Homo sapiens: one gene and its partners. The protein of the gene in region 1 interacts with the protein of each later gene in a pairwise test. Each region holds a gene or a part of one and is shown in the gene's direction. Other genes may lie near its edges.

What was found. The genes of interacting proteins can lie anywhere in the genome.
Region 2: the proteins of TOPBP1 (region 1) and RAI1 interact in a two-hybrid assay, tested with the Homo sapiens proteins (one study listed by BioGRID).
Region 3: the proteins of TOPBP1 (region 1) and TBC1D4 interact in a two-hybrid assay, tested with the Homo sapiens proteins (one large-scale study listed by IntAct).

The regions. Positions count from the first base shown.
Region 1 is NC_000003.12:133,637,251-133,642,542, reverse strand, and holds part of TOPBP1 (DNA topoisomerase 2-binding protein 1), read left to right. Parts: intron 1-2,372; coding exon 2,373-2,584; intron 2,585-4,380; coding exon 4,381-4,667; intron 4,668-5,292. UniProt on the Homo sapiens protein: Scaffold protein that acts as a key protein-protein adapter in DNA replication and DNA repair. Composed of multiple BRCT domains, which specifically recognize and bind phosphorylated proteins, bringing proteins together into functional combinations.
Region 2 is NC_000017.11:17,684,458-17,687,957, forward strand, and holds part of RAI1 (retinoic acid-induced protein 1), read left to right. Parts: exon of another isoform or gene 1-1,731; intron 1,732-3,500. UniProt on the Homo sapiens protein: Transcriptional regulator of the circadian clock components: CLOCK, BMAL1, BMAL2, PER1/3, CRY1/2, NR1D1/2 and RORA/C. Positively regulates the transcriptional activity of CLOCK a core component of the circadian clock.
Region 3 is NC_000013.11:75,283,170-75,286,669, reverse strand, and holds the end of TBC1D4 (TBC1 domain family member 4), read left to right. Parts: 3' UTR 1-3,167; downstream 3,168-3,500.

The DNA.
Region 1 (5,292 bases):
ATAGGAAATGCAAACAGCAGAATAACACGTTAAACTATACTACAGTGATATAATCAGCAAGACCCAGACTTTAGTACAACTCTGGCATAAATGATCCAGTGTCTTCAATGAATATATATTAAGGGCATGGAAAAGAAGGTAGGAACCTATAAGCTAAAAGACTTGAAAAAGCAAAAGCCTAAATGTAGTCTTTAAAGTTGCCATTATTTGATTATAGAAAAGTAAAGAAGTGATTACTATAAGTATCCAAATAGGCCAAGCACAGTGGCTCACACCTGTAATCCCAGCACTCGGGAGGCTAAAAGATTGCTTGAGCTCAGGAGTTCAAGACCAGCCTGTACAACATAGTGAGACCTCGTCTCTATTTAAAAAATAATAAAAAAAAATGAGCCAGGCATGGTGGCATGTGCCTATGGTCCCAGCTACTCGGGAGGCTAAGGCAGGAGGATTACTTGAGCCCAGGAGACCAGGGCTGCAGTGAGCTATGATCACACAACTATACTCCAGCCAGGGCAACAAAATGAGATCCTGTCTCCAAAAAAAAGCCCAAATAGTGGCTACTATTAAGAAGGGAGGGAAGGGGGTTTATATGGCATGTTGGAGAGGTTCTGGGGTAGTTAGCAAGATTCTGTCTTCTGACCTGGGTGGTGGACTTAAGGGTTTCACCTTATAATAATTCGTATAGCTGTATATTTCTTTTTTTGCTGTTTTCTGTTTGAATTATATGAAATAATAAAATTCTTTTAAAACTGAAATTGTGGAAGATAATAACATACATGATGACAGACTCCACTGGATACAGCTAAAGCTGTACTCAGCAGGAAAGTCATGCAAATTCTGAAATAGAATAATTGGGACTAGCCCTAACAGTTATTAAAATATATTTTGTGGCCAGGTCTGGTGGTTCATGCCTGTAATCCTAGCACTTTGAGAGGCCGTGGCAGGAGGCCAAGTTCAACACCAGCCTGGACAATATACTGAGACCCTGTCTTTACAAAAAATTTTAAAAATGAGCCAGGCAATGTAGCATAAATCTGTAGTCTCAGTTATTTGGGAGGCTGAGGTGGGAGGATTGTTTGAGCCTGGGAGGTCAAGGCTGCAGTGAGTCACAGTGGCGCCACTGTACTCTAGCCTGGAGGACAGAGCAAGACCCTGTCTCAGAAAACAAACAAACAAATATATATTTTGTGAAACTTCACTAAATAACAGTGTGGTTACGTGTAGCAGAAAGTTTAATTAATGGACAGCAAATGTAGCAGGAGACCCAAATGTAAAAAGGAATTTACGATACAAGTGACATTTCAAATATATATAAGGAAGACATGGCTTATTCAATAAATAGGATTCATTAAAGTTGGAGCAGTATCTCATATCTAAATAAGTACTGAATGGATTGGTGGGTTAAATGTAAAAAATGAAATTATAAAAGTACTAAGATAAACACAAAACATAGAAAAAAAAAGTGCTAGGAAACATGGGAAATTTAAAAATCTGAAAAGTTGGGAACTAGAACATAAAACCCAGAAGTCATAAAAGAAATCACGGAATTCTGTTCAATCTCAAGTCGTAGACTTCTTTTTCTGCCCCGTATTCTCTGTGTTTAATATCCTATGATCTTGAGGCACTTAATTTCTCTGTATTTTTTCCCATGTCTATACTTAAATATTGAGAGGATCAAATGAGATAATATGTAGAAATGCTTTGGAAAGTTGTAGTAGGTTAAAAAATAATAATAATGTTATTTATACACTTTGCTCCTGTCATTTTTTCTGTGCCTTCTTTTGGGAGGAAAGGACAAGGTGTGGGGGTGATAACTAATTAAGGAGGTAATTTTGGCTGTGTGAGGTGGTTCACGCCTGTAATCCCAACTTTAGGAGGCTGAGGCAGGAGGATCACTTGAGCTCAGGAGTTCGAGACCAGGCTAGGCAACATTGTGAAACCCCATCTCTACAAAAAATACAAAAATTAGCCAGGTGTGGTGGTGTACACCTGTAGTCTTAGGTACTGGGGAGGCTGAGGTGGGAGGATGGCTTGAGCCTGGGAGGCGGAGGTTGCAGTGAGCTGTGATTGTGCCACTGCACTCCAGTCTGGACAACATAGCAAGACCCTGTCTCAAAAGGATTTTTGCTGTCTGTTCTTTGCATGTCTAATTATGTTTTTATAAAAAGTTTGTTACAGCAATACATTTTTACCCTAGAGTAAGCATTTGTAAGGGGATTAGCTTAATTTCAGATAGAGTAAACCAACTTTTAATCAGTATTTTTTTTTATACTTACATGATCTCTAACCACACTGTTGTGTTGGAAATTTTGTTAGTTTTGCGGGTTAATTGTATATGTGACCATTTCCACTTCTTTAAACATAAATTTCAGTGTTCAAGAATACTTTGTTCGCAAATCCAATGCAAAGAAAGGCATGTTTGCCAGTACTCATCTTATACTGAAAGAACGTGGTGGCTCTAAATATGAAGCTGCAAAGAAGTGGAATTTACCTGCCGTTACTATAGCTTGGCTGTTGGAGACTGCTAGAACGGGAAAGAGAGCAGACGAAAGCCATTTTCTGATTGAAAATTCAACTAAAGAAGGTTAATACTTTTATTCTGTTCTTTTATATATATTTACAACTAGATGGTTTCTGGGATATAAATGTGCCAATGCTTGTGTTTAGGAAGGGTCATTGATTTTTGCTTTTCACATTGGGTGCAGTGAGGGTCTCAGTGTTCGAAGTCTACAGATGTAAGCTTGGCTCCTATTTACTGTTGATTCTTTCTATGGCTCATAGTAACACACTATATAATTAACATGCTATCTCTCCTCTTATCTTTGGGCTTCTGCATGTTTCCTGTAGACCACCTCACAGTTGCCTGCTCTTCCTGCTTATCTTTCAGTTCTCAGCTAAGATACCACTTTCCCTGGGAAGCCTTTCATTTTTTCTTTTTAATTATTATTACACTTTAAGTTCTGGGGTACATGTGCACAATATGCGGGTTTGTTACATATGTATACATGTGTCATGTTGGTTTGCTGCACCCATTAATTCGTCATTTACATTAGGTATTTCTCCTAATACTATCCCTCCCCCATCCCCCCATCCTACGACAGGCCCCGGTGTGTGATGTTCCCTGCCCTGTGTCTGTTCAATTCCCATCTATGAGTGAGAACATGCGGTGTTTGGTTTTCTGTCCTTGTGATAGTTTCCTCAGAATGATGGTTTCCAGCTTCATCCATGTCCCGACAAAGGACATGAATTCATCCTTTTTTCTGGCTGCATAGTATTCCATGGTGTATATGTGCCACATTTTCTTAATCCAGTCTATCATTGATAGACATTTGGGTTGGTTCCAAGTCTTTGCTATTGTGAATAGTGCTGCAATAAACATATGTGTACATGTGTCTTTATAGTAGCATGATTTGTAATCCTTTGGGTATATACCCAGTAATGGGATCGCTGGGTCAAATGGTATTTCTAGTTCTAGATCTTTGAGGAATCGCCACACTGTCTTGGGAAGCATTCTTGACTCACCAAGGATGGCCTTTGTCTTGGTATAATGTTTTTTGTTTCACCATGACACTCTGTATCATCCCTTTTATCTCTTACCTCAGTGTTATAATGGTTGTTTATTTTGTGTCTTCCTGCTAAATTTAAAGTTCCAGAAAGGCAGTGAACATGCATGTCTTGTGAATTCTGTATTTCCCATGTCTAACACTAGGCCTGGCATGGAGTAGCTATCTAATAAGGTTTTTTGTTAAATGTTGAAAAAAGGTGGAAGGCATAGGTGGAAGAATACAGTACCCTCTCTTGTAAGATAATAGCATCCATGGGCAAACTTCAGGGACATATCAGCAGCTTGGGAATACCTCTCAGAGTCATTACTTATTTTGCCAGACAGACTGGTAATTTTATGACTGAGGCTAAGTGATGTTCAGGTCATATTAAAATTTGATTAAGGACTTTCCAAAACTAGACTGTAGTTAACTCTGAGTACCTGTAATTGAGATTTTTCTTTTTACTCTGTCATTGACTAGAAAGACATTCACTGATAACAATTTTTGGCAAATAGGCTTATTGAGACATAGCAAGATGAAACAGGAAATCTATTATTATTTTTTCAGTTAATGTGCTTGTCTAACTCAACATATATTTAATGCATAATCTGGTTTGTTTCTTGGAAAGTAGGTATATAATTTTGTGATTTAAAGTGTACCTGAGAATTGACATGAAAACTAACAGATTAGGATGCCGAGGTAGATGGATCTCTTGAGCCCAGGAGTTATGCAAGAAAGAAAGGAAAGAAAACAGTATAAAATATTACTTCTTGTGTACCGGGAAAAAGTGGGCATTAGTGGCTCATATTTGTTTCTTTTCATTTTAAATCTCTAGAACGAAGTTTGGAAACAGAAATAACAAATGGAATCAATCTAAATTCAGATACTGCAGAGCATCCTGGCACACGCCTGCAAACTCACAGAAAAACCGTCGTTACACCTTTAGATATGAACCGCTTTCAGAGTAAAGCTTTCCGTGCTGTGGTCTCACAACATGCCAGACAGGTCGCAGCCTCCCCAGCAGTAGGACAACCACTTCAGAAGGAGCCCTCGTTACACCTGGATACACCATCAAAATTCCTGTCCAAGGACAAACTCTTCAAGCCTTCCTTTGATGTGAAGGTAAGGTTTATAGGCAGTGGTCCCAGAGTTAACAGTTTTACCGTTTATAAAGTTAAAGCACCAAATTTGGCATCACCTCTGAAGTGTAGTAATAAATTTTCCAGAGACATTGGCAAGTAGATTTATGTTACTGAGTTTGAACGTTTTGAGTCCCAGCATACATTTAGGGTTAAGGTAACAGCTATAGATAAATATGGTGTGAAATTAGGACATCTGGGTTCAAGTACTGGATCGATCTTGAACTGTATGACTAGGCCAATCATTTAACATATCTGAGCTTCAGTTTGTTTTTTCATACAAAGAAGATAATATTTGCTCTGAAAATTCATAGATTATAAAGATCAAATGATGAAATCACTTTATAAACTATAAAATGTAAACACACTGATACTTTATATATTGGTTCTCAGAGTACACCCGGGATTTGCCTTCTGAAAATGTGTGTATATCACCTTACTTGAATTGTTTCCTGTAAAGACATGAGTTAAGTCTGTGTTTTAGTTTGATCTCGTGAGCATTGTAGTATGGCTCCCTTTCTGAAAAATGCATTTGTAAATCAGGGGCTAATGTAATCTTCCAAATAATTTTCTTTGATTTTCCAAAACTGATTTTCATCATTATTTCT
Region 2 (3,500 bases), on another chromosome or scaffold:
TGCCATCTATTCATGCAACAAATGTTAATTGCAACCCTAATAATTCCTCTCATGTTAAACTACTCAAGTAACACTTGGATACTTGGGTGAAAAATGCAAATAAGCCAGAAATATATGTAGTAAAAGTAAAAGTTCCCTTGGCACCCTCCCTGCAGGTAACCCCAGTTAATAGTTTGAACGTATCCTTCCAGACTTTTTGTTACTCACTTAATGCATATATATATATATATATATATATATATATATATATGTATGTATGTATGTATATTACATATACCAATCCATGCATAGTTTTCTTTTTCCCCAAGTGAGGACATACTGTGGGCTCTTCCTCGGCAGCTTCCTTTTTCCTCTCCGTTTGTCTTGGAGAGGTTGGTTGTGTGGCGAAGTCCTTCAGGGCAAGTTCTGGGTTGACTCCTGGCTCCACCACATACTGAACAGGCCATTTACCTCTCTGTGCCTCAGTGTCCCCATCTTTACAATCAGGAGAATAACAGTACAGACCTCACGGTACTGAAGTAAAGATGCAGTGAGTTAATCCATATGAAGTTTAGAGCAGTGCTTTTGCCAATAAATGCTGATTGCTGCCGTCATTGTTGTATTGTTATTGCTGTTCTATCTCCATGGCAGCCCATGTTTGAAATGCATTGCTTTCCACAGCTGCCTGTGGCCATGGCATGGGTGTCTTTTTCCTCCCCTATCCAACGTGTGGCTCCACAGGGAGGGAGGAGGTGCAACAGCAACGGTGTGCGCAGAGCAGCGTCTCTGCGGGAGAGGCACCTGGGCACTGGGCCCAAGGGAACAGGGATTTTCCAAGGACCCACTGTTTCCAAAGTTCTGTGCTTAATGTCGGGGTCCAAGCAGGAAGCATCCCTGCACTTGACCACAAGAAGGTCACAGCCCAGTGGGTGATTGGGACCCAGCTCATAGCCAAGGCCTCGACCAGAGCTGGAGGCTTCCTGGAGGAGGGGCCTTTGAGCAGGTGCTTCAGGCACGGCGAGGTAAGAGTGAGAGGAGCATTCCTGGCAGAGGGAACACAGTGAGCAGAGCGAGTCTTTGGAAGCTGGAAGGGATGTGGCCTGTGTGCTGTAGCCAAACAAGAGGGGAGGACTTGGCTCAGAAAGAATGGTGGCGGAAGAGGTTGGGCTGTTGCTGGGACCTCCTCACTGGCCTCCCTGCCTCCATCCTGTCCCCTCCCAGGTGCTGGCCAGCAGCACTGTCAGAGCGATCGTTCTAAACCCAGCAGATAACCTCCAGTGGCTCCTGCTGCCTTATGAATAAAGGTCCCATCTGTAGTTCTTCCCATGCTGTCCAGGGCCATTTCTGGTGTCCTCTGCCTGCCCTGTCCTCATTCAGTCCTGTCCCCTCCAGCCACAGCTGGCACCTCCTTGTTAAGGTGCAGCCATGTGCATCCTTGCCTCTGTGCATCGGGCTGGGCTGTTCCTTCCACCTGGGATGCCCCTCACCTTCCTCCCTGCCGCCCCAGACCAAAACAGACGTCCTGTCTCCTCCTCCTCTGACCTCCGAGGCAGAATGAGTCATCTCCCTTTGTCTATACTCGTGGCATAGCGTTTATCACGGAATTATCGGCAATTCTGCCAGTGTCTGTCCTCCCCATGAGGCTGAAGCATCGAGGCCTGAAAGCACGTCTCCTTGCTCTCTCCGGCCCAGTGCCAAGGGCGAGGCCTAGAACACAGGACGCTCAGAAATGCTTCCTGGCAGGAGGGCCAGGTGAGGTGGAGAGGGTGAGAGCCCCAACATTGTCTCCCGTGGGCCCCTTTGATCTTTAGCAAGGGCATGCTCAGGTCTGTGTGGATCTTGTGCTGTCAGCCTTTAGATGAGTGGGGTGAGGGGCTTGGTGGGGTCGGGGGGCAGGGGGAGGTGGCGGGCAGCTTCCCCAGGCTGCTTCCTGAGGGGGCTGGGAGAAACTGGCTCATCCTGTTCCCCAGTGATTGAGGCAGAGCTGTGCCCTGTTCCTGGTGGGTCACTGGGGATCTGAGATTGGAATGTGACACCAGGGAAGGGGAGGCAGGGTGGGAGGCAGGGCTTGGAGGTACAGGCTGGGGCTTGGCTGGCAAAGGACAGATTTCGCTCCACTGGTTCTTGAACCCGTGTGTGTGTGTGTGTGTGTGTGTGTGTGTGTGTGTGTGTGCACGCGCGCGCCGGGGAGGGGAGAGATGGGGAAGAGAAAAACATGAGGGCAGAGAGGTGGAGTGGGGGTGGAGGACCTGGGGAGTGGTGAGCAGGGACAGGGAGAGATGGAAGTGGGGGGACGGCAAGGAGTGAGGGAGAAGTTCCTGCTGCTGCTGCTGGAGAGTATGAAGAGTGTGCTTAGGGCCAGGAAGGAAAGCAGCCAGGCGCATCGTCTCACACCACCATCAGCCATGCCTTCCTTCGTCTGTCCAGCAGACAACCCTAAGTGTTCTCTTGCTTGGCTCCATGCTTGCATGGCCCCAGACAGGAGCAAGCCTGTGGTCCAGGCTTCGCACCCTTGAAGTCTAGGGGCCAGGTGAACAATGAGCATCCGGTTTCTTTCTTTTTTTTGAGATGGAGTCTTGCTCTGTCGCCCAGGCTGGAGTGCAATGGTGCGATCTCAGCTCACTGCAACCTCTGCCTCCCGGGTTCAAGCAATTCTCTGGCTCAGCCTCCCAAGTAGCTGGGATTACAGGCGCCCACCACCACGCCCGGCTAGTTGAGCAACCTCTTTCTGCACAAAGTGATCAGGCTGGGGGAGAGAAGGTGCCCAGAATGCTGTGCAGAGGCAGGAGAGGAGGGTGGAGCAGGCGAGCATGGGGTAGGGGGCAGGGAAGCCATGTGTTAGGCACTATGGTGGGGAGCCAGGACTGCTGGGGAGTCTTCCTTTCCTCTCTGGCCTCGGTCTCATCTGTAAATGGGGGAAGAGTGGACTGCTCTTGCACTGATGGTCTGTGGACCCAAGTCACCCACTCCTTGGGCATGAGAAACCAGGGACCCCGTGGAGACAGCTGATAGAACAGGGACAGCAGGCATGCTCAGAGCGTCTGCAGGCCCATGGTCAGGGGGCTTGAGGGAGAACATGCAGAATCCAGTGGAGCTTGGGTTCGCCTCCTAGAGTTCCCTTCTTGGAGACTGTGCTCATCTGGAAGGCGAGATAGGGTCGGGGTAGGGGAAGGAGCACTGGATTCGGAATCAGGAAAAGTGGTTGAGTTTTAACTGCAGCATCCCTCGGGCAAGTCACTTTCCCTCTGTGAGGGTCAGTTTCCTCTTCTGTCAAAAATGTGAACGGGCTTTGTTGTAAGCATTAAAGGTGAGCTGGGGCGCCGTGGCTCACGCTTGTAATCCCAGCACTTTGGGAGGCCGAGGCAGGCGGATCACTTGAGGTCAGGAGTTTGAGACTAGCCTGACCAACATGGCAAAACCCCATCTCCACTAAAAATACAAAAATTAGCCAGGTGTGGTGGCCCATGCCTGTAATTCCAGCTACTTGGGAGGCTGAGGCACGAGAATCACTTGAACCCAGG
Region 3 (3,500 bases), on another chromosome or scaffold:
CGCCTAGTCACAGCAGGTGGACCTCGTGCTCATCAGAGCATGCCAATCCTAAGCCATTGGACATATGTAGACTGGTTTTTGTTGTTGCTATGTACATATAAATATATATATAAAATGAACATAGTTCATGCTTTCAGATAAAATGAGTAGATGTATATTTAGATTAATTTTTTTAGTCAGAACTTCATGAAATCCACACCAAAGGAAAGGTAAACTGAAATTTCCCTTGGACATATGTGAAATCTTTTTGTCTTTATAGTGAAACAAAGCCAGAGCATCTTTGTATATTGCAATATACTTGAAAAAAATGAATGTATTTTTTTCTCCAAAGAACAGCATGTTTCACTCAATGGTGAAAAGGTGGAAACATTTATGTAACTTTATGTGTATCTGTCTTGATATCTACTGACATTGTCTATATGAGGAAAATGATTACTGGTCATGCTCCTGTGAGTTTTTTGGGAAGGTAGGGTCATTTCTCCCTGCCTGCTTTGTGCCAACTAGCATGTTGCATCTACATGCATTATGAGTCTGGTTAGGCATTACTTTAAACATACATAAAGAGACAGTAGGACATTGTGGCTGAGTCTACCCAGCTCAAGGTAAAGGAGAATGTTGCTAATTTTTTAGCAAACTAGACCAGCATTATTACTCAAACTAAAAATATCACACCTGAAAAATTTAATTTAGGACCTAAAATGTCTAGATTAGCTTTCTGCTTTTTTTATTTGAATAACTCATTCAGTTGTGAATGAATTCCTCTTTATTTGGTGCCACAGTCACCAAATGACAAGGATTTGCCACTTTCCCACCAAATTGTGAGTGCTTGTAATTTAGGTCTCTCTACCTTAAATTCAGTATAAGGAAACGTAATTATGATTGATTTTTTCCAAAGATGACAAGCTGTGTTGAAATACATTTTTTCTTTTGACCAATTGACAGAATCTAATAAGCTTTAATAATCTTCCCCTTTTATGTGAAAAGTTTTGAGAACTGTGAAATGTTTAGGAACAAACTGTTGAAATCCATTGGAAGGGAAAAAAGAAAGTGGTACCAGTGTTACCAGCTCAACTAAAACCTGCAATTCTGCATTTCAACTCTTCACTTCCTCAGCCTACAAATAGCTCATTAGATGACATTCACGCATGCTGGGTATAGGCAAGGAAAGTAATTTTCAAAGTACATTTGCAGTTCTCTTTTTCAGAGATGATTCTATGATAGTGCCTCTGAAAGTTGATGCAGCATTTTTGCCTTTCCAAAAAGTATTTATCCTCACTGCTTTTTGCAGTACTTGTATTTTCACAGATGGATTATCTGGGGTAATTTTCTTCAAAGGGAGTTTGTTATACACAGTGAAAATGTATTATAGAGTAGAATAGTAAAGCTCTAGGGGTTTCAGAAAGCTTTGATGAACAGATGACAAACATCTGAAACCCCCTCCGCACTGTTACCCAGTGTGTATATAATGACTTGTTATAGCTCAGTGTGCCCTTGAATCCATACAGTTTCTTAAAAGACAATAAAATCTTATTAATAAAGTTAATGTAACTTCTAAGTTCTAGAAAATGCTGATTCTGTCTGCCCCATTCAATTGGGGGCTACTAATTGATTTGTTGCTTGGATTTCCTGAGAATTTCTCTATTTGTAGGAGGGGTTTTTTCTTTTTACGGTCTGTTGATGACAATTACTTTATGGGTGTGATGCACCGATGGTAGCCAAGGAATCTGTTGGGGAAGTTCGGAAAGAAACCTTTTCTTTCTTTTATTCAGTTTAAAGTAAACTTTATCCTGGATGTTTAGAATCAACATTAAGAGTTATATTATGGTGTTCAGAGATTAAGCTGACTTGGATACAATATTTTCTTTTGAAAATGAATTTTCTTTTTCATTTGTGATTTTTAAAAAATGTTGCACCAGTTATGCTTCATGCATCGTTACATCTTCATCAGGTTAATGTAATGTCTAGTTCCTTTGCAATAAATATATTGCTGCAGCTTTCTTGACGTATACTGTTACTTTTCGGGAGAGAAGCAGCTCTTGGTTAGAGTCTTTTACTGCAGGGGTCCCTGGGTACCTGTCTGTGGCCTGTTATGAACCAGGCTGCACAGCAGTGGTGGGCATGCGAGCAAGCATGACTGCCTGAGCTCTGACTCCTGTCAGATCAGCCACGGCATTAGATTCTCATAGGAGCGCAAACCCTATTGTGAACTGTGCATGCAGGAGATCTATGTTTTGTGTTCCTTAAGAGAATCGAATGCCTGATGATCTGTCACTGTCTCCCATCATCCCCAGATGGGATCGTCTAGTTGCAGGAAAACAGTCAGGGTTCCCACTAATTCTACATTATGGTGAGTATATAATAATAATATGGTGAGGATATAATAATAATAATAGAAATAAAGTGCACAATAAATGTGCTTGAATCATTGAATCATCCTGAAACCATCCCCTGCCACCAGTCTGTGGAAAGATTGTCTTCCATGAAACCAGTCCCTGGTGTCAAGAAGGTTGAAGACCGCTGCTTTACAAGATCTGCATGGTGAAACCCCATCTCTAGGGAAAATACAAAAATTAGCCAGGCGTGGTGGTGTGCATCTGTAATCTCAGCTACTCAGGAGAGTAGGAGAGGCATATATTGCTACTTATAGGAGGCTGGAGAATAGTTTGAACCTGGGAGGCGGAGCTTGCAGTGAGCTTGCAGTGAGCCATCATGCCACTGCACTCTAGCCTGGGCCACAGAGTGAGACTTTGACAAAAAAAAAGAAAAACAAACAACCAAACAAAAAAGATCTGCATGGTTTGGATTGTACCTACTTAAAATTGCTACACAAATAATTCTTCCTAATAGAGTCAGACAACAAAGATAATTTAGGAGACATTTATGTAAGTACATTGTTACCATTTTTCAACTTACTTTCTCAATGGAGACTTTTGAAAGAAAAATATAAGCAACCACATTGACAGATTTGCATTCTACCCTTTTATTTTCCAGGCCCCCTCATAGATAGCAAGGGAGAGAGAGCCACAAGAAAATACAAAATTTTCCAACTGGACGCAGATAATTAAGAATTAAGGACATTTACTGATGGATGTGATATGAATGTTTTTATATAAAATATGCATCTCTTGGAGTATTCTCATGTATATTTGTAATCCAATAAAAATACACTGTATCTTCTTGCTAACTTTAGGACTAACACTTTTAACTATTTTTTGCTTAATGTAGTAGTTAAGCATTTTGAGAAGGAGGCACTGTAGGCTTAATAGTACAGTCTCTTAATATCCATGTTGACTTTTACCCATTTTGTCACTATTTCACCAATTATTTTTTCACAGTACCAGATTAGGAGTAAGAAATCTACCATCTGATGGCATGAAGTATTTAGTCCTTCTACCATGATGTGACACTCTCATTATATTACTCATTAGCTGTGATATAATGAGAAAAGCACGGGATTTAGGGTGAGAAGTTTTATATCTGTGTCTTGGTTCCACCACTTT